2 separate regions of the Homo sapiens genome follow, and region 2 is linked to region 1. The links come from fine-mapping of genetic effects on gene expression. A gene starts in region 1. The other region holds a variant in brackets. All regions are shown on one strand. Distances are between the middles of the regions. Region 1 holds the start of ACADSB (acyl-CoA dehydrogenase short/branched chain). Region 2 overlaps ACADSB (acyl-CoA dehydrogenase short/branched chain).

Evidence for each region.
Region 2: its variant is fine-mapped to the expression of ACADSB in whole blood (TOPMed, PIP 0.95).

Annotation. Positions count from the first base shown.
Region 1 is chr10:123,004,164-123,017,007 of GRCh38, forward strand. ACADSB (acyl-CoA dehydrogenase short/branched chain) reads left to right here and starts at 4,843. Exons shown (of 11, transcript NM_001609.4): 1 at 4,843-4,908. The coding sequence starts at 4,867. It overlaps IKZF5 (IKAROS family zinc finger 5), which reads right to left and starts at 4,632. Exons shown (of 5, transcript NM_001372123.1): 1 at 4,531-4,632; 2 at 2,863-3,013. RefSeq lists enhancers at 3,909-4,138, 4,419-4,748.
Region 2 is chr10:123,056,869-123,074,555 of GRCh38, forward strand. ACADSB (acyl-CoA dehydrogenase short/branched chain) reads left to right here. Exons shown (of 11, transcript NM_001609.4): 11 at 1-1,422. Among named protein-coding and RNA genes, the nearest start is that of ACADSB, 57 kb to the left of the region's middle. RefSeq lists an enhancer at 11,070-13,350. The variant T/C (reference allele first, on the strand shown) is at 8,246.

The sequences.
Region 1 (12,844 bases):
TTTTTAATTTGTAAAAGCTGTATAGCCCTACAGATTGTCTGCGTTCTAATTATAAAAGCTATAATTAAGAAAGAAATCCCAGTATTTACATTGTAACTTAGCATCACTTCTTGCCAATCAGTTCACATGAAAACTATACATTTCTCCTGGAAAATGTCTGAATATACTTTGACAGGCTTCTGGAAGCAAGATAATCCTTACCAAATCTTGATTAGAAAGCATAACGTTGCTACAGTACAACGTGACAGTGCAGTAAAAACACACAAGACTGCCAGAAAGCAAGCAGAAGAAAATGATATTTTTATACATGCATCTCAAGTTTAAGAACACAAATGAGCCTAATTACAGAGGATGGCTGGCATATTTTGACAGTCTTGGCTATTATCACATTGTCACATTATAAACTTCACTGTGTTCCTTGCCATAAATTGTGTGCTGCTTTTCAACCACAATGCATGATAAACTTAAAAAAAAAAAAAGCATGTCTATGAAATAGAGAACACTGTAACATTGCAAACATGAAGAAAAACTCTTCTTAAATTAGAATTTTAAATATATTAGTATGCTTTATAACCTTAAACATCCTGTCATGATTTAAAAATTAGGTGTCATTTCGTCCCTAAGCATTTTTGTGCCCACTTGACCTGTATGGCCTCTATCCCATATATCCATATACACAGGGTATGACAGGTGCTTGCAAAGCCCTAGTCTATAGTAGAGACATATATGAATGAAAGGTGCCTAAAGTGAAGTAGAGTCTTCGGCTCAAAACTCAGCTTTCTACATCTCAAGTCAATATTTCTAAGCATAATAAATTGAAAAATAGTAATAATTCTGAAACTGGGCTGGACATGGTGGCTTATGACTACAATCCCAGCACTTTCAGAGGCTAAGGTGGGAGGACTGCCTGAGCTCAGGAGTTCAAGACCAGTCCAGGCAACAGAGCGAGACCTCATCTCTAATTTTTAAAAGAAAAAAAAAATTTCTGGAACTACAAAAGACTTCCTCTTATAGAAAGAAAATAAAGGTTTTCTATCTGAGCCATTTTCCTGTCTTTGATGTAATTATCATCAGTCTCAAGTCTCAAAGTTTAATCTAGGAACTCCACAAATTAACTGATACCCAGAGATGCCTCTAAGGCATTGATAAATTTTAAAACCTTTGCAAACATAACAAAATATACTTTAGAAAATCCACAAGCTATAATTTTTTTAGTGGTATCTTTCCTATACTGGACATGAACTCAATACCTTGGTGTTTGTTAGCCAAAAAATTACTTACTTAACACAAAATTTCAATGTATGATATCATGTCATCTGAACAAGAAATATACTTAAGTATTCTCCAGTATTATTACAGATGTGGGTGGTGTTATTACAACTCAGATGTACTCTTTCTGCTGGTATCGTCATGGACTGAATGTTTATGTCCCCAAAAGCTGATATGTTGAAATTCTAACCCCCAATTTGATGGCATCTGGAGTGGGGCCTTTGAGAAATAATTGGGTTGTAAAGGTGAAGTCCTCTAAATGGGATTAGTGCCTTGTGAAGAGATCCAGAGATCTTGCTTCCTCTCTGCTCTTTGCCATGAGAGGATACAATCAGAAAGCAAGCCCTCCCCAGATACCTGATCTGCTGGCACCTTCATATTAAGATTTCCCAGCCTCCAGAACTGTGAGAAATAAATGTTTGTTTAAACCACTCAGTCTATGGTAATTCGTTACAGCAACCTGAACTAAGATATCTAATCATATCAACCAAAGAGAACAATATCCCCATACTTTATGATGATTGTTCCTTATGATATAGCAAAATTCCCAAATCCTTCCTGTGATTATTCTGATTAAAGTTAAGTTGAATATAGTATGGAATTCCATGGGGTGTAGGTGGATATCTATATAGAAACTGGCTAGGGTATACCTAAAGTATTGTCATGCCAGTAGCGTCCCCCAATTTATTATTCAAGGCTCAAAATCAATGCTTTCAGAAAACAACCAGAGGCTATGCAAGCCGGTAGGGGGAAAAGAGGTATAAGAGAATTAAGCTTTGATATCCCAAAGAACAGGAAAACCTCTACCTCAAGTAGGTAATTTAGGCTAATTTCCGATCTTCCTTGGTTTCTGATAAAGGATTTATTTTGTATGAAGTCGTCTGATCTTTCTTCTTCAGTCTCATAAATGGGAAGCTGTTGATCAATGCAAGCATATATACAAGCACACACACACAATTACATGTGTGTATATATGTGCACCCCCCCCAGCCTCTTAACCAGTAGCTAATAATTTAAAACACAGGCACTGAAATGCAAATTAGAAGGCATTCACAACTATGAAACAACCAGAGAAGAAGCTCTCTAACCTATCTTCCTTCTTCCTTCTATCTTTTTTATAAACTGTGGGAGAATTTTGAGAACATGATTAGGGAACAGCAGGATATGTTTCGTTCACCTAGCATTCATGAGAAGTCTTACTTCTCATAGGTAACCATAAGGAAGAATACAATATTAGCAACTAATTTACTTACATAATAATTTATGGGTAAGGCAGGCCTATACACATAAAGTGATTACAGTTCAATAGATGTGTTTACCCTCCATAGCCTAATAATTATGGTCACTGAGATTTACTCTGCTATAGAACACATATAAACAGACAACGTTGACAAATAAGGATTGGTTTCTATGGAGTAACATGGGCCTTCCAAAATAATTGGAACACAATTCCTGATTTCAGAACTGTCAAAAACTCTTGAAGGCAAAAAAAGAAATTATGAGGCTCTGAGAAATCAGAAATCAAAACATAAAAATAAAACATAAGTAAAACCATGTTGAAAGAAATCCAGAAGAGAAATTATACAATCTAACCTTTTCACCCCAAATCTGTTCCTCCTTTTTCTTGCCACTCCAACATTGATGAAATGTAGAGTAATTGAAATTTACTTCGGAGATACAGCAAGGGACTCCAAAAGGCCATGGAGAGAGAATTTCAACTAAAATTGAAAAGCCATACAGAGGTCTGCATAAAAAACAAACAGCACACCACAAATCAAAACCTTTAAGATAAAAACTTAATTAGCATCTACAGGTTGAATGAGCTAGTAACTTATGCCAATCTTATCATTACATTAGCTGAAAAGAAAACGAACTGACAGATTAATCAAAGAACAAAGCAGTAGCTTCACTTCAGCAAAAGCTCCATAGGATCACCAAAGAATAACTGGTGTGACTACCGTTTTCTCACTGGTGGATTAGTTTTTGGCAAGATTTTTAATGTCTAAATTTAAGTTAAACTTCAGTTTAAAGAAATTAAGATTAACTTCATTTAGTCACAGCACACTTCCAAAACGGTCAAGCTTAGTACTGCTGAACAGCTGTAGTTGCATAAAAACAACGCATAGTCCTAAGTAGGGAAATGGGAAAGGGCTTTAAATACAAAAACAAAAAAAACATGCACACCCGATAAGGGCACATCTGAATCCCATCCTTCTTATCCTATCATAACACAAAACAGCTACGGTTTTCTGGGAAACATCCTGGACCGCTAGGGGAAAATAACACCAGACATTTCAATTCACTGTAACGAACTCTCATCAATAATAATAACCTTTAGCTGTTGTGACAACACGACATAAATCAAAATTAAATTGAATTTTTAAAATTGTTAGTTCCTACGTTTAAAAAAAAGTTGTTTTAAATACATTCTGTTCTTTCAAAACTGAATTTCCTCAGATCACACAATTTAAGACGCCTTTATGTCTTCTTCCGCTTGTCACACGTCTTTCGGGTTCTGACCAGCACATCAAGGGGACTCTAAGCAGGCCACGTGGTTAGTGTTTGCTAGAACTTGTTTAGCTTCAGATCCAGTCATCGAGCATGCTAGGCTTGGCTACTCGCGCTCCACACAGTTTATCCAAAGATCTAAACCCCGAATGAACCTGAATAGTTATTTGCTACAATGTCTTTCTCAAATCTCACATGTTCCTAAAATAAGGGTGCCCATGCAGTAGAGACGGATCCGGGCAGGATCATTAGATAAAATACGAAGGCTTTAAACGTCCTTCTCCCAACAATCAGCCTGGGACCGGCGTCGGGGCAGCAGCCTCACCAAGATTCGGAGCGACATCCTCGCCAGGATTCGAAACACCTAGGAGACCCGCGCCCGGCTGACTCCCAGCCCCTGGGACCCCGTGAAGACGCAAACCTCGGGACGCCTCCCGCAGAACCACCTGTCAGAGCCAAGCAACAGTCCCCGCCCCGGAGCCTCCGAGCTCCTGCTCGAAGGCAATGACAGCAGGAGACCCCGCTCCCTCGGGGTTCTCGCGGCCATAGGCGCCGCAGTCCACTGCCCTCCGGCTAAAGAGGTCCCGGGCCATCACCTGCCCGCCTACCGACCACGCCCGACCCTCCACTGAACTGAGTCTCCGTCCGGATCAGCCGGCCCGCCACGAACCCAGCTCCAGTCTCCGGCCGCTCCTTCTTATCCGCCCTGTCCTGCCGCGTCGCCGCCGTCCGAGCCGGCAGCCTGCTACTTACCTCCTGACAACTGCATGGAGTAAACCACACCGCCTTGTTAAATGCCGTCGCCGCCGCCGCCGTCTTCGTCACCGTCACAGTCGCCGCCGCCATCTTTGTTGTGTCTCCGACTCCCTTCCCGCCCCCCTGCCTTGCTCAAGTCTCGCGTGAGCAGGATGGAGGGCGAAAGCGAGGAGGGGCCTGTTTGTCTCTCTTGGGGTTCCGTAGGCAGCAGGGGGCAGGGATTAAGGGGGGGTGTGTGCGGGGCGGGTACTGAGTGGGCGGGGCCTTGCTCGGGTAACTCCCAGGGGCTGGCTAGAGACCCAGAGGCGCAGAGCGGAGAGGCCTGCGGCGAGGATGGAGGGCCTGGCAGTGCGGTTGCTGCGCGGCAGCAGGCTGGTGAGTGCGTTCGAGGCTGGCGTCCTGGGGGCCCAGGGCGACCTTGGCCCCTGGAATCGCAGCTGGCAGAGCCTTCTAACGGGCCTCGGGGCGCCGGCCTGAGCCCCGCTCCACGTCCTGGGTCCCCAGACTCTTTACCCGCGGGCAGTCTATGACCCCGACCCCCTTCAGGCCTCTGGTGGAGGCAGCTGGTGGCAAGGGGGTCGGGGCTGTCTAGAAGCTGCTTTGGCGGAGCAAGTACCTTGAGTGGAGTCGGAGGGTCGCGTCCGCAAGATGTCCTTTGCAGGCCGTTGCGTCCTGAGAGCCACCGAGTCTGGATCTCTGGATCTCTGGATGCATTTTGCACAGATGTCACCTCCCTGATGCCCTAACGCACCTTTCCCGAGTGATTACATTTCACACCCCCTCCCCCAAAAAAGATAGTTAAAATATAGGCCCAGTCTCATTCTGAGCAGGTGTCTCCCTGTCCTTCCTTCCGCGGCCCCGCTCAAAGGTAGTAAGGGACTTCGGAGTTGTTCGGGCTTCCCGGCCAGGGACAGAGTTCCCTCTGCCCCTTATCTCATGTCTGGAGCCTGGGTATCTTCCGTGGATAGACTCACCGCCGCCCAGGGGAGCCGGAGCCGGTGCCGGTCCCTCTTCCATGAACTTAAGCTGAAACCAGCCTCTTGTTGTGCTTAATTCTTATCTGTGCACCCACACAAACTGTTAACAGCCCCTGTGTTAACATCCTATGCTCTTCACCCCTTGGACCTATTATATAGCATGCTTTTCAGAACATACACATTTGGATACACTTGTATTTGTCAGTACACTTCACTGGGAATTTTCCCACTGCTTACGTGTGCTTTTAATGTTTCCTTTGCATTTGCTTTAATGAGTTAGGCTTTCCAACTGCTGCTTCAGTCTTATGCCCAGAGGCAGAACTCTGACCCTTTTTCTTATTAGAGATAATTAATGTTATTTGACTGTTTTACAGGCCTGAAGTGCAATAAAAAACAGTAAGTGATTATTGTTTAATACTGTTTATAATTGTTGGTTAATAACTTAGCAAAGAAAATTTCTTTGGTTTTACAATTTGACTCTGTTTTAGAGCCAAAATTTATTGACCGCATACTCTGTGGTAGGCACGTTCTCGTTCTACCTGAGTCATCTCAATTCTCACAACCATCTTAACAAGTAGTTTAATCTTGCAGATGCTGAAAAAGAATAATAGCTTGCCCACAGATAGAAAGGGATAGAGCTGGTGGTATTCGAACTCTGGTCTGATTCTAAACTTAACCTTCATATACTACTGTCTCCCCGTCCTTAGAGATATCAAAAACCTATTTTGTTTGAACTTTTGGTTTATTGTGGCTTATAGTCCTTTATAGTTTTTGAAGCTCTTTTACATAAATTAGCTAAATTGATTGAACATCGACTGTAGCATAGTGGTTAAGAACGTAGGTTCTGTAGCTAGGCTGCTTGGATCTGAACCCAGGCCCTCTCACTTCCTAGTGGTATAACCTTGGACAGGTTATGCTTTGGGTCTCAGTTTCCTGGTCTGTAAATGGAGAGAATAATTGTGCGTATTCCAAAATTGTTGTGAAAATTAAATGAGCTCATATGTTCATGTAAGGCACTTAGAATAGTGCTCGGAATGTAGTCAGCTCTCGGTAAATATCAGCTCTTACTGCCATGCACGAAGCATTGTGTGCTATGCCAGATGTAATAATGAATAAAATACTCTACCTCCAAGAAGTTTATCTTTTAGAGGAAAGGTTAGAACTATGTGCAACTAACCCCATGTCATGTAGGTGTGGAACAAATCCTAAGGGGCTACAGTCTGCGTGCAGATTCAGAAGATAGAAATGACTAGGACCATTGGGGAAGTGATAGGCTCTTTGGAAGCTGGGTTAGAGTTTAGGAGGGGAAAGGAGTGGTCAGAAAACTGCAACAAAAGGGGACTGAGGCCACTTTAGGGAATTGGGGGTTGATCCTTTTGGATTGTTAGGAGCCATTGAAGGTCAAGAGCTTTGGAGTTTCCTCATGCCACAGTGTAGGTAGATGGCTGTGGACACAAGTGGCATGGAGTGGGGAGAAATGCAAGGTAGGGCTAATTTTGGTTTCTATCCAGAGGCAAATGGAAAGCTAGCATTTACTCACTTATTGTAGACCAGGGACAGCATTTTACACCCACTACCCTATTTACTCTTCCTGTAAACCTCTGAAGTAGGTATATTAGTGGCTTCATCTTGCAAATGAGGAACTCGGAGGCAATAACCAGTGTTCCCAAGTCACATAACAATCAGATTGCAATGCTGACCTTCAGCCTACCCCTGCCTTCTCAGAAGGTCTCTCCTAGTCCTGCAGATGGATTAGAACTGTCCTGCCCATTTGGTCTAAGCAACCCAATTAGTGGAGAATTGGACCTTGTAGTTAACCTGTGGTTCCAAAGCATTTTAATGTAGCTTGATATCTTTTTTTTTTTTTTTTTGAGACGGAGTCTTACTCTGTCGCCCAGGTTGGAGTGCTGTGGTGCGATCTCAGTTCACTGTAACCTATGCCACCCGGATTCGAGCGATTCTCCTGCCTCAGCCTCCCGAGTAACTGGGATTACAGGCGCCTGCCACCTTGCCTGGCTAATTTTTGTAGTTTTAGTACAGATGGGGTTTCACCATCTTGGTCAGCAAGATGGAAATGGTCTCAAACTCCTAACTTCATGATCCACCCGCCATGGCCTCCCAAAATGCTGGGATTACAGGCGTGAGCCACCACACCAGGCCGCTTGATGTCTTTTAAGAGATGATTTTTTTTTTTTTTAGACAAGTTTTCACTCTCTTGCCCAGGCTGGAGTGTAGTGGCGTGATCATAGCTCACCGTAACCTTGAACTCCTGGCTCAAGTGATTCTCTGACCTCAGCTCCCCGGGAGCTAGGACCACAGGCATGTGTCACTGCACCTGGCTAATTTTTAAAGTGTTTTGTAGAGATGAGGTCTCACTGTGTTGGCCAGGCTGGTCTGGAACTCCTGGCCTCAAGCGATCCTCCCACCTCACCCTCCAAAATGCTGGGATTACAGGCATGAGCCATTGCACCCAGCCAAGAGGTGATTCTTGACAAATATCCTTGACGTGAATTCTTGTTCAGTTAATTCTCTGGACATCTGCCAGACAGCAGCTGCCAAAATACATATAATTCTTGTTGTTTAACTTTTTGCTCTTCAACAAAACCAGAAGTATTTTTTCTGGACATATATTTGGCATCCAGGTAGAGAGAACACAAATGGTTTGAATGTGTCCCCCAAAATTCATGTGTTGGAAGCTTGATCCCCAGTGCGGAGGTTTTGAGTGGTGGGGCCTAATGGGAAGTGTTTGGGTCATAGTGTGTCCAGAATTGGTGGGTTCTTGGTCTCACTGACTTCAAGAATGAAGCCACGGACCCTCGCGGTGAGTGCTACAGTTCTTAAAGGCGGTGTGTCTGGAGTTTGTTCCTTCTGATGTTCGGATGTGTTCGGAGTTTCTTCCTTCTGGTGGGTTTGTGGTGTCACCGGCTCAGGAGTGAAGCTGCAGACCTTCACGGTGAGTGTTACAGCTCTTAAGGCGGCACATCTGGAGTTGTTCGCTCCTCCCGGTGGGCTTGTGGCCTCGCTGGCTTCAGGAGTGAAGCTGCAGACCTTCGCGGTGAGTGTTACAGCTCATAAAGGCAGTGTGGACTCAAAGATTGAGCAGCGGCAAGATTTATTGCAAAGAGCTAAAGAACAAAGCTTCCACAGTGTGGAAGGGGACCCGATTGGATTGCCACTGCTGGCTCGGCAGCCTGATTGGTCTGTTTTACAGACAGCTGATTGGATTGGTCTGTTTTGACAGGGTGCTGATTGGTGCATTTACAATCCCTGAGCTAGACACAAAAGTTCTCCACCTCCCCACTAGATTAGCTAGATACAGAGTGCTGATTGGTGTATTTACAAACCCTGAACTAGACACAGAGTGCGGATTGGTGCATTTACAAACCTTGAGCTTGATACAGAGTGCTGATTGGTGTATTTACAATCACTTAGCTAGACATAAAGATTCTTCAAGTCCCCACCAGATTAGCTAGATACAGAGTACCGATTGGTGCATCCACAAACCCTGAGCTTGATACAGAGTGCTGATTGGTGTATTTACAATCCCTTAGCTAGACATAAAGATTCTTCAAGTCACCACCAGATTAGCTAGATACAGAGTACCGATTGGTGCATCCACAAACCCTGAGCTAGACACAGGGTGCTGATTGGTGTGTTCACAAACCTTGAGCTAGACACTGAGTGCTGATTGGTGCACTCACAATCCCTTAGCTAGACACAAAGGTTCTCCAAGTCCCCACTAGACTCAGGAGCCCAGCTGGCCTCACCCAGTGGATCTTGCACCAGTGCCGCAGGTGGAGCTGCCTGCCAGTCTCGCGCCTCGTGCCTGCACTCCTCAGCCCTTGGGCGGTTGATGGGACTGGGTGCAGTGGAGCAGGGGGTGGCGCTCGTCGGGGAGGCTCAGGCCGTGCAGGAGCCCACTGGCGGTGGCGGGGAGACTCAGGCATGGTGGGCTGCAGGTCCCGGGGCCTGCCCCGCGGAGAGGCAGCTAAGGCCTGGCTAGAAATCGAGCGCGGCGCCGGTGGGCCAGCACTGCTGGGGGACCCGGCGCACCCTCCACAGCTGCTGGCCTGGGTGCTAAGCCCCTCACTGCCCGGGGCCGCAGGGCCTGCCGGCCGCTCCGAGTGCAGGGCCTGCCAAGCCCACGCCCACCCGGAACTCTAGCTGGCCCACAAGCGCCACGCAGCCCTGGTTCCCGCCCATGCCTCTCCCTCCACACCTCCCCGCAAGCCGAGGGAGCTGGCTCCAGCCTTGGCCAGCCTAGAGAAGGGCTCCCACGGTGCAGCGGTGGGCTGAAGGGCTCCTCAAGCGTGGCCAGAATGGGCGCCGAGGCCGAGGAGGCGAGGCACCGAGAGCAAGCGAGGGCTGCCAGCATGCTGTCACCTCTAAATAGGGGAACTGGCCTCGTAAATTATTAATGCTGTTTTTGAGAGAATGAGTTCCTCATTAAAGGACAACTTTGGCCTTCTCTTGCTCTCTCTTTCTCTCCCCTCATTTCTCACTCTCACCTTCTCTCACCCTCTTGCCTTTCTCTTTGGAATGACACATCTCTTAACCTGAGAACTTGGAACAGCTGACTCATAATAAATGTTCTTAAGTACTTAGAGCAGCTGACTCATTATAAATAATCAGTAAACATTAGCTATTTTTAAAATTAATTAATTAAGTTAGTTTTTTAGAGACAGGATCTTGTTCTGTCACCCAGGCTGGAGTGCAGTGATACAGATCATGGCTCACTGAAGCTTCAAAATCCTGGACTCAAGTGATCCTCCCGCCTTGGCCTCCCAAAGTGCTGGGATTGCAGGCATGAGCCACTGTGCCTGGACAACACTAGCTATTAATGTAGGCAGAACACATTACCAATAACTTTGATAGGATGTTTTAGGGTATCATTGCCTTACGCAAAGTACACAGGTAAGTTTTGGGGATCTGTAGGTTTACAACAGGGTTCTTGACATCAAAAAAAATTACATTTTTAATTGGGGAGGTAGGGTATCTGTTTTAAAAATGAATTTTAGAACAGTAGAAGATAGCATGTTGCTAATGCTAAATAAATAATATGGGCAGATATGCTTATAGGAGATGGGGCTTCAAGTGACCATTCAAAGGAGCAGTTTTAGGTAAAGCAGCAGAGGGGTGCGGATTCCAGGGCAAGGAAATGTGCACGCAAAGGTGTAGAGGTAGGAATATGCTCAGCTTGTTTAAGAAATAATATGCCACTATAGGTGATGTAACAGTTTTGCAGAAGGGTGGAATGGGTTCAGATGGTAACTGCCTAAGGGTTAAGTTTATCCTTGATCTCAAAGCAGTGAGGAGCTGATAGCTGCCAAGCAGTTTTGGCTTCTCCAATCTAGGAAGCTAGAAAGAATCACAGAGTGAAGCAAGCCTGGATTTCTTCTGCCAGTTCCTACATGGGTGTTGCCCAGACAGGGTTGCCCACAGTCCTGGAGAAGAGCCCTTTTATTTACCAAAACACAAGAATTTATAATGTTTACTACTCAACACAGAAATGGCAGTTACTTTGCACATGCAAATATATCTTTGTCTTCCGTTGATCTCTCTCTGGTGCTAGGAAGACTAAGTAACCATAAAGACACTCTCCCTGGCAACCATCAAAGAGTCTTTCTCCTTTCTCTCGGGATCCTCACACACTTGCCCTGTCTTGGGCCTACATTGTCGTTTTTGTTGTTGTTGTTCCTCATGCCACCTTGTCTAAGAAGGCCCACATTATCTTGACTCATTCTCTGTAAGGGCTAGACCAGGTTTTCTGTGTTTTGTAGGATGCTAAGCAGTATCCCTGGCCTCTACTCATAAGAGGCCAATAGCTTGCCTGAGCTATGACAACCCAAAATGTCTCCATCCATGGCCAAATGTCCCGTGGGGGCAAAATTACTGGACTGAGAACCACGGATGTAGACCTGTGTAACAGTGTACTCCATGAAGGAGGGGAAAGGTGGCCTTTCTCCTTATAACCTGGTAGGGAACTTTCTCTCTAAAACTATTTGCCATACTCAGTTTGTTGGCTATAGAAATTGATCTACAGTTTCAAAGATTTTTGTTGAAAGATTTCAATAGCAGCCATTGAGATTTTAAGGTGCTGTTTGCAAAGGAGTTTACAAGATAAAACAGTCAGCAGCTCACAAAAGGAACTCATCACGTGAGACTCTGAAGCCACATCCCACTTAGACCATTTCACAAGTCCACTTTTAGAGTAACAAGGCCCTCAATGAGGGTGATAGCACCGATGATCAGAAAGGAAGACATGTTAATAAAAGAAGACTTGAGAAGATGTGGGAATTATCTTGAAATGGAGGAATTAGATGGACTACACATTTTCTAAATGAAATAGCTTAGTGATAGGCAAAGATTGGGACATCTGGAGAAAAAGTAATTTAGGGTGACAGAAGAAAGGTAATTCTGTTTTAGACACGTTTTAGGTATTAATAAAACTTACAACTGAAAGTGTCTTAGAAGCTGGTCAGAAATGGGTCTAGAAAGTGGACCAGTGCTAAAGCTATGGTAAAAGGAAAACTTCATCTGAATTAAATTTAAAGGAGTTTAATTGAGCAGCAAATTGGGCAGCCCCCAGAACCACAGCAGATTTGGAGAGACTCCAGGGATGCCTTGTGGTCATAACAAATTTATAGACAAATGAAGGGAAGTGACAAATCGGAAGTGAGGTACACAGTGGCTGGATTGGTTACAGATTTGCAATTGTCTTATTTGAACACAGTTAGAACACTCAGCAGTCCATGAGTGGTTGAAGGATGGCTGCTGGGATTGCCCAAGACGCAGCTACTGTTACAGGCGCATACTCCTAAGTTAGGCTTTCAATCTTGTCTACCTATTAAGCTAGGTTACAGTTCATCCACAAGGACTCAAATATAGACATACGGAGTCCTTCTCAGGCAATATTTAGTTTGCTTTAAGAGCTATAAATGCTAGCCAAAACCATAAATGGGTATGGGGCATCGGAAGGATAGTGAAGAAACAGGAGTGGACAAGTCAGCCTTTGGGGTACAGTTCAGACCATCCTGGGTAAATGTTGAGAAGCAAAGAAGCAAAAGGAGACTTAGTAGGATATCAGAGGAAATTCTGTGACATATGTGTTTTATTCAGAATTGGAGCAAAAGAAGGAAAAGGATATTTAAAAGCAAACATACAGAATTTGTGTCACATAAAAAAAACAAACCTGTGAGAGCAGAAGCGGTGTGTTTTGAGAAGTGCAAGACATGGCAGGGCCAGCTAATGGAGCTGGTGGAATGCATACTGAGGAGGTTGTGAACGTGGTTCATGCTCCCTTCACTCAATTTGGTAACCCCCTGTCCCCAGCC
Region 2 (17,687 bases), 55 kb after region 1:
GTAAATACAATTGACATAGGAATTACATTAAAATATTAGGAAGAAACAAGGACAAATTTAGACCTTGAATCCGAAGAGATAAAGCTTACTTGACTTTCAAATGGAGAGATGATGAAAACCCACTCATTCACTCTTTCAGAACAAAAAGACAGTCATCTGATAAGAGTATGACATGGATGAAATGCCCTACAGGGGCCTTGGACATCTTTAATTTCTGCGATTATGTGAAAGAGGTGGACTTTACAGATAATGGAGCAGAAGCCAACATTAGTAAAAGGAATCCCAACTTCTTCCCATAGAATTAGAAACATGTGAAAGTACAATAAACTTCTTGTTCAAATTACCAGCATCAGAGAGCTTCCCATTTGCATCTAGACCTTGAATTTATATTTATTGATCAAGTTCTAATTTGTATGTATATTTTGTGCATATTCACCAATAACAGTTAAAATTAATTATGTGTTATAGTTAATATATGCACCTACCTTCTTCCGTTAGTGCATCAGTAAATGTGTTATTTTGTCATTTTTCCAAAGAGAGTGTTGTAGGTTTTCCCTGTAGTTCTTCCTTTATAGCTTTTCTTCTGATAACCATGACTTCAGGAGCTTTAAAACTATCTATCTTGCATTTGTGTCTGGCGGAGAACTAGCCATCAGCCTCCTGAAGCCTGCCATCATTGTTAATTTGAGGACTGGGCTGTCTTGGGGCTCAGAAGATAAAGAACTATTTGAGCAGATGTGTGTGGGTGGCACTGGATTCCACCCAACTGCCAAGTTAGTATTGTTAGAGATTTCATTTTACAACACAAAAATAAGCCTGTGTCAAAGATTTTAAAATCATGGAAAGTTAAAATCTAGAAAGACCTTAGAGAACCAGCCAACCAACTCTCTCATTTTAAAAGTGAAGGATTCATAGCACAGATTACTTGCCTAAGATCATCCAGGAACGAAGACAAGAATCCAAATGTACTTGGGGACAAGAATTAGTCCCCAAATTCAGTGTTCTTCCTAGTATTAAACATTGCCCCTTTCGACAAATTTTGGATTTCATTCTTGTTATATTTCAGTACTCTTGCTGATTTATTTTAGGTTTAACTGGTAAAGAATGAACATTTCAGAAGTGTTAGGATTAGTCAGTGTCATCGCTTATGTATATGAATCACTTGCCAAAGACACTGGCTCTCCTCAGCTGTAACCAGCATGTCAAATGTGAAGATTATTGTGTGGGATCCTTTGGTTTCATTGTTATGATGTATTTTATAAATGTACTAGTTATATCCTTGTTTATGTATTTTTGCTGATCTTTCATAAAGCAGAATGGTATGTATCGGATTGTTTTAATGTTATATATTGGATTGTATTCGATGTTACAAAACCAATATTCTATGGAGAATGAAAAAAATAAAGGACTAAATTAACTGGAGATTTTTGGTACTCTTATAAAGCAAAATTGTTTGTTATACATACAGATGAAATAAGAAAATAATGTAATCTTTCTGTAAGATATATACATCTTTGTTTACCAAACCAATAGCTTGCCTCTCACATAAGCCAATTTTGTTTGTTTTCAGAGAAGAGGTCTTATAATGTAGACTGAGTTTAAATTCATGATACTAAAGAAAATGTTGCCAGAGGACCCTTTTTTTTAAATGGCAAAATAAGCAGCTCTTCAGTAGAGAGTTCACCTCTTTTGAGCGTATCCTTGCTGTACAGATATTATCTGGCTGATATGTATGCCTGTGCTTTATAGTGTTACTTTTAGAAAATGTATATTATTGCACTTTTTACTCAGTGGTACACTGTAGCCTAAGGCTATAGGAAATTTCAACTTATCTTCTCCCCATTATCCTCTACATCATTTTAGAAATCTAGGTATTAGTCCCTTTTTTTTTTCCTTTGTCATTCAGCAACATGTAGTGAGTGGTCGCTATGTCCAAAGTGCTGTGGACGCTGAGCCACCATGCAAACATGAATAAGAACAGCTCCTTGTTTAAATGTGCGCCCATTCAGGTGTCTTTTCTATTCATCACAGAAAGATTGAGTAGAAAGCTACCAAGGTCACCCCTATAAAGAAATATTTCTTTACATCCATTAGAATGATAACAGTAAGCGCTGACATCTCTTGAGCTCCTACCATGTGCTAGCCATGATTCTAGACTCTTGACACATATTAACTCACAACAGCCCTATGAGGGAGGTGCTCTTTGTTATCTCATTTCATAGGCAAGGACACTGAGGCATAGAGGTGTTAGATAAGATGCTTATTCATAGATGGCAGAAATGGAACTCAAACTCCAGCAGTCTTGCTGATGAAGGCCCTCCTAGATTTATTCTTTTGGGTCTAAGTCTTGTTTATCTTCAGGAGCCTTCCAGTAAAATACCACCACCAACTAGTCCTTTATTCATTAATAATTCTTCATGAATGAGTTTCAGATACTTTGAGGCAGAGAAACTAGCTGAGAATGGGACCTTCGAGACGAACGGGTGTGGTGGAAACGTGTGTTTGGAGAGAAGACCTGGCAGAGTAGGTAAAGCAATGGGAAGATGCAGTTAGAAGGATGAGAAAAGCACTGAAAAGAAAACTAAGGAAATACCAAATAATCTCACTCTAGAGTTTTGCCTGGGATTTGCTATGTGCCATGTTTGATTCTTGATCTTAAAAAGATAAAAATAAGTAATTTCTTGAGCCCAGGAAATTTGAGACCAGCCTGGGCAATGTGGCAAGACCCCTTTTCTACACAAAAACACAAAAATTAGCCAGGCATGGTAGCACATACCTGTAGCCGCTGCTACTCGGAGGCTGAGGTGAGAGGATCGCCTGAGTCTGGGAAGTCGAGGTTACATTTAGGTGTAATTGCATTCCAGCCTGGGAGACAGAGTGAGATCCTGTCTCAAGAAAAAAAGAAAAAGAAAGGAAAAAAAAAAAAGTAAAGACTCAAAGTTACCCTAGGGTGGGGAGAATGACAAAAAATCATGATAGAAATCTGAGTGGTGGCTACGCAATTATTTATACAGATAGCTCACAATATAAGGAAAAAACCTTATTTTTTTTAAAAGAAATCAAGGTAAGTAGAAAATAAGACGGGAAGATAGGCAAACATAGTATTATTTGTAGTTGCAAATGGGTTAAACTCAGATGTTCAGATGGTGCAAACGAAAAATTTAAATCCCAGCTACATAAAGTTAGAAACACCTAAAACAAAACAGCACAATAAAGTTGAAATAAAGAGATGGAAAAAGGCCATACAAATGCTACAAAAAGGAAAGCATGAATAGCAATGTTGATATCTAACAAAACGGAATTAAAGGCAAAAATAATTTTAAAGGATATGTCATAAAAAGGAAGAGTTCACCAAAAAAGTCCAGCAGTCACAAACTTTATGTCCCTAACAACATAACTGGGAACTACATAGAGCAAAGCGAATAGAAATACAATGAAAAAAATTGACAAAGCCATAATCATAGTTGCTGACTTAGAAATCACCAAGTCAAGTGGAAGGTAAGAACAGATGTAGAGGATTTGGGTGGCGTAATTAACAGGTTTGATAGAACTTTTTTGTTTCTTTTCAAATGCAAATGAATGATCATTAGAATTTTGTCTCAAAATTTCTACAAATTCCAAAAAGATAAATTTTACAGGCGGCACTCACTGTACACAATGATAAGTAAATATATAAACAAAAAAGATAGGATATAAAAAAGCTAACCACGCCGGGCATGGTGGCTCATGCCTGTAATCCCAGCACTTTGGGAGGCTGAGGTGGGCGGATCGCCTGAGGTCAGGAGTTCGAGACCAGTCTGACCAACATGGTGAAACCCCGTCCCTACTAAAAATACAAAAATTAGCTGGGCGTGGTGGCGTGCCCCTGTAATCCCGCTAGCTACTCGGGAGGCTAAGGCAGGAGAACCTGGAGGCGGAGGTTGCAGTGAGCCAAGATTGCACCACTGCATTCCAGCCTGGGCGACCGAACGAGACTCCATCTCAAAAACAAACAAAAAACTAACCCTAGACTTTAAATAACCTGGATTAATTAATAAATAAAAATATAAAATACAAATTGTTGGCCGAGCATGGTGGCTTACGCCTGTAATCCAAGCACTTTGGGAGGCCAATGCGGGTGGATCTTTTGAGATCATGAGTTCGAGACCAGCCTGGGTGGCGAAACCCTGCCTCTACTAAGTAAAATACAAAAATTAGCCAGGCGTGGTGGCTCGTGCCTGTAATCCAAGCTACTCAGGAGGCTGACGCAGGAGGATTGCTTGACCCTGGGAGGCAAAGGTTGCAGTGAGTTGAGATCACAGCACTGCACTCCAGCCTGAGTGAAAGAGCAAGACTCCATCTCAAAAACAAACAAACAAACAAACAAAAAACAAATATTGACAATGATGTGACAAGCCCAGGTCTCTTGAATCTTCAGTGCTTCTGGGAGGGGGTGCAAGAAGGCATGTCAGGGACATCCAGGGCAGCATGGTTTGTAGTAGTGAAAAGTTAGAAATGGCTGAGTAGGAGAATAAATAGGTAAATCATCGAAAACGCACACAAAAGCCGTTTAAAAAAAATAAGGAAGATCCGTGTATGGAGATGAAATCATCAAGTCATATTGTTTAAGGAGATAATAAGTCACGCAGTATTTGTGCAGAACAATACAAAGCTACATATATTTCTGTAAATACAAAGGTGTATAAATTCTTAGAAAAAAAACTTGGAAATTAGCCAGGCACAGTGGTGCACACCTGTAGTCCTAGCTACTCCAGAGGCTAAGGCGGGAGGATCACTTGAGCCAAGGAGTTCAAGGCTGCAGTGAGCTATGATCATGCCACTACACTCTAGCCTGAGCAAGAGAGTGAGACCTCATCTCTTAAAATATAATAAAATAAAATACAGAAAAAAGTGGAAAGTGTACTGCCACACCAATAACTGCATTTAACTCTGGGGGCCTGTGCTGGCACTGGAGGTCATTAGCATCATCTATACTATTTGAATTTTTATATTAGGAATATATTCTTGTATTACTTGTGTAATAGGAAATATAAAATTAAAACAACCTACTAGGCTACTGATATCTTTTACTTTTGTGCATCATTCTCCCTTTAACTGATTTTTCTACTTTTCTCAAATAGCCACAGTGAAATCGGCAGCTCTATTCAGCCTCACGGGAGAGTAGACTCTGACATAGAGAGCACAGAAAAGAGATCTGAAACCTATGAAGGTTTGACCTCCCTAGGTAAATAGCACTGTTCAGGTTTAAATGCTTGTCCTAAGCAAAGCAATGCATGGCTTGCTTTGCCAAGCAGAACTTCACAGAGAGGGCTTTTTGCTTTCAGGTATAAATTGGGCCATTTGCACTGGCTTGGGATTGGGATCTTGTCTTTAGTTGTGATTTGATTTTCTATGATTTGACCCAGAGTATTCAAATGTAATATTTCCTTGAACATGAAGCATTTGCATTAAGGAAAAAGGAAAAATTCAAAACTTCTACTCAAGTCAAAGGACACAGGTCCTTTGTTTAAATTGGATGGACAAAGTATGGCCCATGGGCCAAATCCAAGCCACTGCCTATTTTCGTTATGGCCTACAAGCTAAGAATGTGTTTTTATGTTTTAAATGTTATATAGTTATGTACAGTATCCTCAATTTTGCCACTTTCCCACAAAGCCTAAAATGTTTACTCTCTAGCACCTTTAGGAAAAAGTTTTCCAACCCCTGATTAAATGATTGCCTCTAAATCAAATTTTGACTGAAAAGGTTGGTCAGTCTGTCTTGATGTCATACCGAAAGAAGAGAAAGAGAGAAGACTTCCCCTAGGAACTTGAGCCATTATTCTCTCTTGATTTTCTTTGTAGACTTTCTAGCCCTATGGGCTCCCTGCTACAACCTACAAACATGATTGTCTTCCCTTACCCGCAGTTTCAGTTACCTGCATCAACTGTGATCTGAAAATATTAAACAAAACTCCAGAAACAAACAACATACAAGTTTTAAATTGCACGTCGTTCTGAGTAGCATGATGAAATCTTGCACAATTCTGCTCCGTCCCAATAAGAACGTGAATCATCCCTTTGTCCAGCGTATCCATGTTGTCTGCTCTACCCCCTTCTTGGTCATCAACACTGTCTGCTCTTGACATCCCGCCATCTTCATTGTCATGCTTGGTGATCTAGGATCACACAAAGCAGAGGCTCCATCTTCTGAGACGTTGTCAGAAGGTCGATAGTGGCTGAATCACTAGTAGGCACATCACAGTGCCTACGCCATTCACACAACTTCATCCTATCCCATACACATTTTACCATCTCACACCATCACAAGAAGGGTGAGTATGACAATGAGACAATGAGAAAGAGAGAGACCACGTTCATATAACTTTTCTCTTTCTCTTTAGAACCAAAACAATGTTCTCAAAAGCCATCTTTTTACCTTTAATTGGTGGCCTATTATATTTGTCCCAATTTATATAGTTTCAGACACCCCTCATCTTCCTACAGGCTCTGCTCCTTTGACAAAGCACCTCCTCTTTTTCACTGACTCTTCGTTGGCTTCTTTGGCCTTAAATGGAAATTTTTTTATCAAGACTCTGCTATTGTGCCTCTTCATTCTCTATACAATTGGTTCTAAACCTCACTGTGCTTTTAGAATAACTCCAAGAGACCTCAAAGTGCACACTGTGGAATACTATTCCCAGAGTGTTCCAGTCATTGGCTATAGTGTTTATTTTTAGATCTATCTAGCAGGCTTTGGAAATTTATATTTATTTATTTATTTACTTTTGAGATGGAGTCTCACTCTGTCGCCCAGGCTGGAGTGCAGTGGTGCGATCTCGACTCACTGCAACCCCCACCTCCCAGGTTCAAGCAATTCTCCTGCCTCAGCCTCCTGAGTAGCTGGGATTACAGGTGCCCACCACCACGCCTGGCTAATTTTTGTATTTTTAGTAGAGATGGAGTTTCACCATGTTGGTCAGGCTGGTCTCGAACTCCTGACCTCATGATCCATCCGCCTCAGCCTCCCAAAGTGCTGGGATTACAGGCGTGAGCCACCGCACCTGGCTGGCTTTGGAAATTTATGTCTAAAATGCAGGTGAAGGATGAGAGTAGGAGACAGAGATCAGGAAGTCTTACGTAAGTCTGGTAGTATAAAGGTCAGATGAAGTACTCAGGAAGGACTGGTCATCTCCTGGGCTTTCTGCCCCCAGATCACTTGAGATGTCTGTAGAAAGGCACATTTCCTGACCTATGAGTCTTATCTTTGGGGCTGGGGCCTAGGAATCTGCATGTTTAGTAACCTGCCAAGGGATTTTCATCGCACACTAAGACTTGAGTAGTTGCTCAAAATGATTCCATCCCCAAAGTCCACGTTCCTTTCCAACTTCTCCCCAGCACCCCAGTCCAGCAGGACCAACGAGGTAAACCCCAAGCTCCCTAGAGACCCACCTGCTTAGTGAAGAAGCAGAAGGGGAGCAGGCGAGCCCCTTCCCTCCATCCTCCTGAGGTCAGAGGTCCTTGCGGATCCCCATTCACTCTCCCAGTGTGAGGCAGAGAAGCCAGGCACCAACTGTTCTCCGAGTTCGGTGGAACCAAAAGCAATTTAGGGCAATGTGTTCACAGTTCTCCACCCCAAAATAGGAGCCTCCATGGGGCTTGCTTTAATGAGATTTTACTTTATTAGTTCAAGAGTTAATGAAGAAACTGCTGATAAGATAAATCACCTTAGGTGCGGTGTTTTGAAATCTAACCATTTCTCTTAGAAATTGATTTTTTTTCCTTTTGGATATGCAAACTAATGATGAAGTCATAGTAGGGATGTAAGTTTTGGTGCCTTTGGAGGGTCAGGACGTCTGAAGGGAGAACATCTGGCTGAGTGGACAGCTCTTCGAGCCTTACCTTATTTTACATTCTGTCTATAACAGAAACCCATCGCTGTAAAATGTACATACAGTTCCTTTACGCATTAATACTCCATTGTACCAACCCTATTGATTTTTCCAAGTAGACAAAGGCTAAGGATATGTTTATTGATTGTTGCTCAGTGCATTTTAAGTGTATTTTGTAATAAAGAGCATTTTGAGACTGAAACAAACTTTCCCTTAACCAATGGGCAAGTTGAAATTTTAATTAAATGTTACTAAATATTTTTTGTAAAAAATAAGACTATTCACAATTCTACATTCAATGTCCATCAGCTAATGTAGAGAATTACAATCACGTGCCATGCATGTTACAACTAGACCTATGGAGTTAATATAATG[T/C]AGGAGTAATGGGAATTACTAATATTGCAAAATGTTGCTCAGGCACCATGTGAAACTGTTGGAAAGACAAGCCAACTCATGGAACTTCTGGAACTGACCATTGGAACACAAAAAGACAGAAGGAGGGAAGAGAAGCCAAACCCTGAAGAGCTTTGGTGGAATTACCTAATTTGGGGTAAAATAGAAAGAACCTTCTCTTTCCCCAGCCCCTTTCTGGAGCAGCCTCCAAAAAGGCTGAGAGTAGGTGCTGAGAAAACATATCTGTCAGACGGATGGCCAGATAGGAAGCCCTGTTTGGTTAGTGCTTTTTCTTTAAAGAGTAGCTGCATAATAATGATTTCTCTTTTCGTTTACTCATTGTCTTTATTCGAGTGGGGGCAGCTAAGATTTGCTTGGGGACATTAAAACATCATTTGGAAAATCAACCTTTGGTATTTGCCAGCTCATATTAGTGGATTTGCAGTTTGATAAACCACTTGGATAGAGGGGGTGCCATCCTTGTCTCAGGTACCTCACGTGGCTTGAAACGGTGTCCACACTGGAAGAAGACATGTCCTCCATCAAGGGCATCCATGAAAATTAATGAGTGGTCCAAAACAATTCGTAAGGAGGGTGAGTCGGTTTAACTCCAAATGTGGTTTCAGAGTGGAGTGTGGCACCTGGGTCCCAGTCACCAGTGGGCTGCCACCACTGGTTCCACCTCCAAAGTAATTTTTAAATCTGTCCAGTCTTTATTCTCCACTAACACCATAGTCTGATCTAAGATATGACTTCTCACTCAGAACAGCACAATAAGCCTCTCAACTGGCTTCCAGCTTCCACTATTCCCACTGTTCGATCCACTTTCTATCTAACAGCCTGAGACATTCTTTCAAATGTAAGCTGGATTATACTCCTCTTCCATCATTTCTCTAGAAATGTGCTGTTCAATACAATGGCCACCAGCCAGCCATGTGTGTCTATTTAAGTTATTTTTTGGTCTTTTGCTATTTTATTCGGAGGATTATTGCATATATATTCATAATGAGAGTCATCTATTCTTCTTCTTTATGCTTTTAATCAGATGTTGGTTTTGTATTGTATTTCTTTATAAAACAATTTGAGAAATTATCTATATTTTTATGATTTCAAATACCTATCTAAATTTAAATGAGTTAAAATTTTTAAAAATGAACAATCCTTTCCTTGGTTATACTAGCCATGTTTCAAGTGCTCATTAGTCACATGTGGCCAGTGGCGACCATGTTGGGCAGCACAGACATCTAGCATTTTTGTTTTACCTGAAAGTTCTGTCCATCTGTACTGCTCTTGAAGATGCAGCAGTTTCTCCCTCAAAGTAGTAGGTGGTGCCCAGAGCTCCTGACCAAGCAAGCTGTATGGTCTCTAAGAACTTTGGGCTTTGAAGGAGTATGGCAAGCTTAATTTGGGGAGCTACTACTTTTTTTTCCCTTTTCTCTTCTCCCTATTCAAGCGGGCTCCAACGATTCTTGCCTCCATTGAGGTTGGTGGCAGCACCTCCTGACTTTTGTCTAAAAGTCTAAATCCATAGAGAAGGACAAGGTTTGAAAGGAAAGGAGGAAATTAAGTCCCATGTGAAGAATAAGGCCTGAGGAGAGAAGAATTTTCCCCAAATTAAAGAGAAATTTCCCTAGGTTGGGGAAAGAGAGAGAGAGATGATCAGGTCCCATAAGTAGCCTAGACTAGCACCCCAAGGAAGTGCATCAGAGGGCAAGAGGGAATGGCATGGGGGACACCAGGAAGCTGGGTCCTGGGCAGAGCCCTCCAGCCTCGCGAAAGATGTTGGACCTCAGGCACATCCCAAAGAAAGCAGAGAAGCTCGCCTGAAGAAAGCATCTGGGCCAGGAGAAGGGACCTCTCTCTCAAGGAGGTAAGGAGCATAGGAGGTGATGGAGGCTCAAGAGGCTCCTTTACACCATGGCCCTGGGCAAGGCCCCAGAACCCAGATAGAACTCCTGGGGGAAAGAGCCCTCACAGAGTTAGGTATTCCATGGAATTATTGGGTTGAGGGCTCAGAGTTGGTGCCACACTGATTGAGGGTGTAAAAGGATGTAGGGTGTGAATTTTACTCTTTCACAGAACTAGAGCTAGAGTTCAGAGCTGCTTATGGATCAGGCGGCCTTAGTCTTAGTATCCTTGGACAGTCCCCGCCTGTTATTCTTAAGATTTGCTTGCTACCCTCTTATTTTGTGTAGAAGGCATCTGAGCCCAGAGAGGCAAAGGCCCTTGCTCCCAAGTTCCCACAGCAGATGACTAAGAGCTTAGGCATTGACATCAGACTGCTGGAGTTTGGCTGTCTGCGCCACCACCTCTTAAGTGTACAACCTGCAGTGGGTGTCTCATGGCTGCCATGACAAAATACCTTATACTGGGCAACTTACAAGCAATAGAAATGTATTGCTCACAGTTCTGGAGGCTGGGAAGTCCAAGGTGCAGGGAGATAGGAATCTATCTGGTGGGGGCTCACTCCGCTTCATAGATGCTACTTTTTCACTGCTTCCTCCCATGGCAAAGGGGCCCACAAGCTCCCTCAGACTTCTTTTCTAAAGACACCAGTCCCATTGATGAGGGTGGATTCCTCACTGAGGCTCCACCTCTTACTACCACCACATTGGGAATTAGGTTTCAACATAGGGATTTGGGAGGAGGGGGACAAAAACATTCTGACCAAGATTGTGGTTATTTGACCTCTGTAAGGTTTTGTTTTCTTAAGGGTGAATGGGACATGATCATGACACTAATGCCCACTTTGAAAGGCTGCTGTAAGGTATAAGTTACACAGTGTGTATGAGCCTCAGCAGACTACTGAGTCGTTCCATAAATTACCAGCTGGGGCCACAGGCTGGCTCTCCTGGCTCCTCATTCAACATTCCTGCCTCATAATAAAGTCAAAGCAACTGCTAATGAGCAGATCAGAAAGTAAAGTTGTAAAACTTCTGAAGTCCCACTTTTTCTCAAATTACAGCAACTCCTTTAGCCAAGGGTAAAATACCCTGACCCACTTGGTTAGAGGTTTGCCATCAAGGCCACTGCCGCGTCTAGCTGTGCAGCCAGCAGAAAATGCGAAACCGTCCAAGCACTTTGGCTTCCACTCCAAGATGATCTGCATGACATTTGGGTCAATCAATCTAGAGATAATGATTCCTGCTGCAGAGCTGTGTGTGTCCAATCACACACACAAAATAAGGGTTCCCAATTGATTTTTGTGAACTGGTTTCATTTTCTCGGAAAGCATTTCAGGTCAATGGTGAAGCTAGGGTGCTGAGAGGAGGTGGCGTGTCTCCACCTAATTTTGCCCAGGAATGTCTGGCTCTCACTGTGCTCTGTGGAATAAAATTGGAATCATCAAGCCCTTTGAGGAATTACAAGGACATTTTAAAGCAGGACTTTTAATGCGGGGGAATAAGCATAGAGCATCTGCCTGGAGGAGATACACACATACACACACACATACACACACATACACATACATACACACACATACACACACACATACACACACACACACATACACACACATACACACACATACACATACATACACATACACACACGTACACACACACGCATACACACACACATACACACATGCCTACGTATACATATATATTCACATAGGTTTGTCTTTCCAGAATAAGTTTCTCACAGCAGCACAGTGACAGTTAGGAATCTGTGGGTACTCTTTTCCTGGGCTATTTTTCCACTTTAATGTGTGAACTTCATTTATAATATCCTCAAAATTAAAGCACAAGGAAACCTAAATGAATAGTTAAAGGGGTAATTAAAAATAGGCAACTGTCCTTGTTTCTCTCCTAAACTGGTTGATTTATGCCTTGTTGTGGTTTTTTTTTTTTTGAGAACACAAAACTATTAATTTATGTGTGAAAAGAACAGTGAATTAATCCTAAAGAGCCCTGCAGCCTTTAAAGACCTGAATCATATGTTGAGCTCATTTAAAACTTGCATAGGAAATTAAGGTAGAATAAAGCCCTTTAATTTGAAAAGTGCATCTATAGTTGCCATCCCTAGGATATCTGCAGGGTCATTATTCAGAAAGGTTAAGGAGGACTTTATTTTTTTATATTCACTATGTATTTCCCAGTTACAGCTCACCATGGTGCATTTCAACTTATAAAGAGAAGGAGATAAAAGGGGGGAGGGGAGCTTTTTATTCACTTTCCACTTAATTTCCTTGCCGCCACGCCAGTCCCAGCTTAATGAATGTAATTGCTACCTTTGATGAAAATACTATTATCAAGATCACACATTACATTGGAAAACAGTTTTTCTTTAAACACAGCTACTGCAGTCTCTAATTATGCATGTAACAAGTGTCTCCCAAACAAAAGAGCATGTTGTCTACAATTGCTAGGAATTGGAGCAAGGCAAATTCGAACAAAGGACAGATTAGATTTGCTCCCCGCTCCACAAAGCCCGTCCCTCTGATTAATTTCCTGCAAAAACTAAAACAATTCTCTTAAAAGGCGCTCGCCCCCTTCTTCAGAATGATCCATATGCCATTTGGGTCTTTCTATAGGATGATAATGGCCTCTGATTTGAACCCGTGTTAGAAAATAAGAAAGGGCTTTTATGAACTTCCTCTTTCATATGCAAATGGACAGCACAAGATCTTGAGGGATAATAAGCCCCCCAAAAAGTGACTTTTTAGTGGCTATAAAAGAGCTCATGGTAGGGGAAAGTCTGCATTGAGCCTGTTCAACCCAGTTATTTTATCAGCTTCAAGAAATGAGGCATCTCTGAGAAAATACCTCTGTGCCTGTTGAGACAGTGGCAACAGCTTTTCTGGGGTGGCCTTTCCTAAAAGACAGTTTCTTGACTTAGGAATAGAATTTTAAAAATGGATTCTGATTAAACAGCAAGTATGCTTGTTAAAGTCTTGTCTTAGGAGACCCTAGGTTTTAATTGCGCTTTGCTATTCATTTGGGAGACTGCATTGGGCAAGTTATCAGGCAAGTTGGGCATGATGTCCTGGGTCTTCATTTCTTTCACTTACCCAGTGTGAGAGGGGAGCGAGATGATCCTGAATGTGCAACTGCCACAATGTCCCCATTCTACCCCCAGCACTATTCAAACCCAGAAGGAAAAAACCAGCTTAGTCCCCAAAACAATATTAGTTATGAGGATGAGGTCTAGAGTCAGACAGCCTGGGTTCAAATCTCAGTTCATAATTTACCTCCTGTGTGACCTGGAAAACAATCATCTTTCTATGTCTTTATTTCCTTGACTTTATTTATTTATTTTTGGTGTTTCCTTTATTGTTTGTATTTATTTATATGTATCTCAACTTTTTTTTAGATTCATGGAGTACATATGCAGGTTTGTCACATGGGTATGTCGTGTGATGCTGAGGTTTGGGGTACAACTGATCCCATCACACAGGAAGTGAGCAGAGTATCCAAGAGTTAGCTTTTCAACCCTTGCCCCATTGCCCCCATTCCCCTCTAATAGTCCTCAGTTTCTACTATTATCATCTTTTTTTTTTTCTTTTTTTGAGATGGAGTCTTCCTCTGTCACCCAGGCTGGAGTGTGGTGATACAATCTTGGCTCACTGCAACCTCCGCCTTCCAGTTTCAAGCAATTCTTCTGCCTCAGCCTCCCGAGTAGCTGGGACTACAGGTGTAAGCCACCACACCTGGTTAATTTTCAGTAGAGATGGGGTTTCACCATATTGACCAGGCTGGTCTTGAACTCCTGACCTCATGATCCACCCACCTCAGCCTCCCAAAGTGCTGGGATTATAGGTGTGAGCCACTGCACACGGCCTATTGTTATCATCTCTACCTCCATGTTTACCCAATATTTAGCTCCCACTTGTAAGTGAAAACATGTGGTGTTTGCTTTTCTGTTCCCATGTTAATTTGATTATATTTCCTCAACTTTAAAATGAAATTAACACCAAAAGGACAGTGAGAATTAAATAAAAGCATACTTGTAAAATGTTTCCAACAATACCCAGTACCTAGGAAGTATTCAAGGAAGGAAGTATTCAATCAATTTTACTTGTTACTCTTATTATTTAAGACCTGGAAGACCACTGGTGCTTGATGAAATGAATTTCCCAAAGTACTGCCCGCTGTCTCCTTGAGGCCTGGGGAAATGGCAAAAGGGAAGTGTCATCTTGGATTGAACCTTATGTCTATCCAATAATGGGAAGGCTACCAGAACTCAATTTAAGGAGGTCGCAGTTAGGTCTGGAGCTGTTTTGGTAAAGCTCTACTGCATTAGACGTGAGTTGATTCTTTTCAGAGGCTCCTGCCAGATATGGTCCAGAGAGAATCAGCAGAGCAAACGCCAAATGAAGCAGGCTACCTGCACTGCTCTTTCTCATAGGAAAGAGGCTCTGGATGCATAAAAAGAGAAACACCACACTCCTGGCTCCTCATTATCTTAGGATTCATTACCTGCATCCAGATCATTTCCTTAGGGCAGTGAAAGCCATCATAAAGCTATGCTCACTAAAGAACCGAGTACCTATGAAAGTAGCACCCACCGGAATGTCCCCTTCTGCTGAACTCTAGCTGTCTTTGCTCAACCCTGATCATCTTTACTATCTGTCTCACTAATTGTCAGATGTTCCAACAATACTTTGCAAAGCCCATATAAATTGATGGCAAAACGAAACTGCAAATTGTGCCACAGTTGCAGGATTTCTTGGAGTTGTGAAAATGACGCTGGAGAGCCATTAGAATTCTATGAAAAGCCATTGACAAATGAGGATCTGGCCATTCTTGAGTTAAAGAAAAAAATGGGCAAGAGGGATGACACAGTCGACACTCAAAAGAGAATGATTTGAGTGCTGTGGGTGAAGATATGCCCTTGTGAAAATGCATGAAGCCTTTGGATAATTTTGCAAAAATGACACTCTAAGACCATGCTGTGAAAATCAACCACAAAGAATGGCCCACAGAGTGAGCCATCATACAATTTTGTACTGAAAAACGTATGCCCCCCTCCCAATTAACATTCGATTCATTCTTTGTTCAGTCTAAGATTATAGGTGCAATTATAGCCTTAGTCTAAAAATGAGATACATCTTTTTTCATAAATTTTAAGGCAAATTGTAAGTTTCAAGACGAACTCTACATCAAACCTCTTTTGTTTCCACCATTTATTACGAGAGGGTCCATATTTTAAAGAGATTTGTTTAAAGTGGAATTTTTCCTGCACCAATTTGCTAGTTCAGCAAGGACTTCATGTACCGTAGGTGATATCTTGGGAGCCGCAGGAGACAGTGCACACCCTTTTACATTAAGGCCTCAATGCTGCAGAGCTCCATCCCTTACATACTTTGATCAGTGTGAGCAGGACACACACACGCGCGCGCGCACACACACACACACACACACTTCACCTGCAGATTCCACACGAAGTCAGGCTCTCCAGGCCTGTGTTATCCTGGTAGGGAGGGCTTTCCCAGTTCAGGCGGCTTTCCCATAGCACAGGACTCTATGACTAGTGATCAGAAGGAAAGGGGCCAGGAGCACATCACAGAATATGAAGACCAACCTCCGCAAATCCCACCCTCGCCCACTGCCCCATGAGTCATAGAGAGAGTGATGGGGCTGAGAGTCAGCAGAGAGTCCAGAAATGCCCATTTGCATCCACAATTCTGTTCTCTCAGGAGTCTTCTGGCCCTCGAAGCTGTGTACCTGCCACCTGGTCCCGGCCACAGCCCTGGAGGAGGCCCCGGAGCACAGCAATCTCAATTTCTCAGAAGCAGAAGTGGAGGTGCTGGGACCAGCCCAAGGGTACCCAGTGCATGCAGAGAACCAGGGCAGCCTGAGCACAGATGGAGGGCTCCTCAAAGTACTCCCCGGAAAGCCCCACACATCCATCACTCTTCCCATTCCTCATGCTGCCTGGAACTCTGGAAATTGGCTGCTGAGATCGCTCTAAGGAGCCTCAATGGGGACACGGCATTACAGACAAGAGAGCTTTAAGGCGGCATCTCTGAGTCTCGATGGTCTCACAAATGACCGGCCATTTCCTGGTCCACTGGTCAGAGAATTAGCATACTGTGCATGGGAGCTGCCTCCATCTGTCTTCTGTGCTCCTCATTACCAGTGGCAAGGTGGAATCGGCACCTAACCTTTGAATCCATGAAGGGTAATGCCCCAAACACTCCTGAGTAGATGCACTCCCCTGTGACGGCCACATCGAGGGACTCTGGAACGTCCTCCGTGGGCCCATGCAGGCCACATCTGTGTCTGAGGCCCAGGGAGCAGGTGGACTCCACGAAGAGCAAGGGGTTGAGGAAGGAGCCCTGGCCTCTGCTGGTTCCATGCACTGTTTGTGGGGGACTCAGGCTGTTTGCTTGTCTTACCTGGCCTCATCAGTAAATCAGGGGTCTTCCTGGCAGGTCTGAGAGGTCTTCTGAGCTCCAGCTCCAGGGCTGCCTTCCCTAGAAGCCTTTTTTAACCCAGTCCTCACCTTCTCCCAGTCCTGGAAAACCAGCCACGACTCCATCAACTCCCCTCTGGCCTCTCACAGGCTCTGACCCAGCTCCCCCTGCCCTTAGCTGCATTCTCTGGCTCAGTTTCAGCAGCTTCCCCTGTTCACTCAGTGGGAGAAAGTGACCCTGGCTTCTTCCCTGTATTTGCTTCTGGCCACAGCTGCAGTCTGGGTTGGAGGACAGAATCTCCAGGGGAAGGAAAGGAAGATAAGGCTGAGAGAAGGCAGGGTCCCTAGGATGCCCTGTCTGCCAGAGGGCACCTTCTGACATTGGCTGGCTCCTGGAGCTGTGGCCTCTATCCTGCAAGGTGGCTGGTGTTTGTTGACAATGCAAACTGAGCCACCTGCGGCTCCCACCCTGGACAGGACTGGGGTCTGTGCAAAAGGACATTAGACCACTGCTGGGTGCCCCAAACAATTGGTTGCAAGGTGCTCTTTATAAATCTACCGGGTATGGTTTTTTATTGTAGATTGCACAGAAAGGCCCCATGGTGGGCCAGGAAGGCCAGGGCTCAAACAGAGCTGGGCTGGACCACGCTGTGGGATGTCACCTTGGACAAGTTCTTTCTAGAATTCAAAGCTCAGTTCATTCATCGGTTAAATGGGTGGTTGTACCAGATCGTGGCTACGAAACTTCCCAGCCCTGACCGTCCAGAGGACTCCAAAAATGCTGGAAGGGACTGGAGAATGTGCCAACTCAGGGGCTTTCCAGCCTTGTTTTGCAGAGTGGTAAGTTTTGGACTAAAGAAACTGGGCCATGTGATTCAAATGCCCAGCAGCTTGGGGCTGTCACAGTGAGGGTGTGACTGCAGCCTGACCAGAGGCCAGGAAACGCCATCTGGCTCCCAGGCAGCTCTGTCCACCCTGTGGGGATGCTGAAGGCTCCCTACATCTGACCTTCTCTCTATAGGGAGGAGAAGGGGGCCCATGGTTGAGGCAGGCCAAGGAAGGG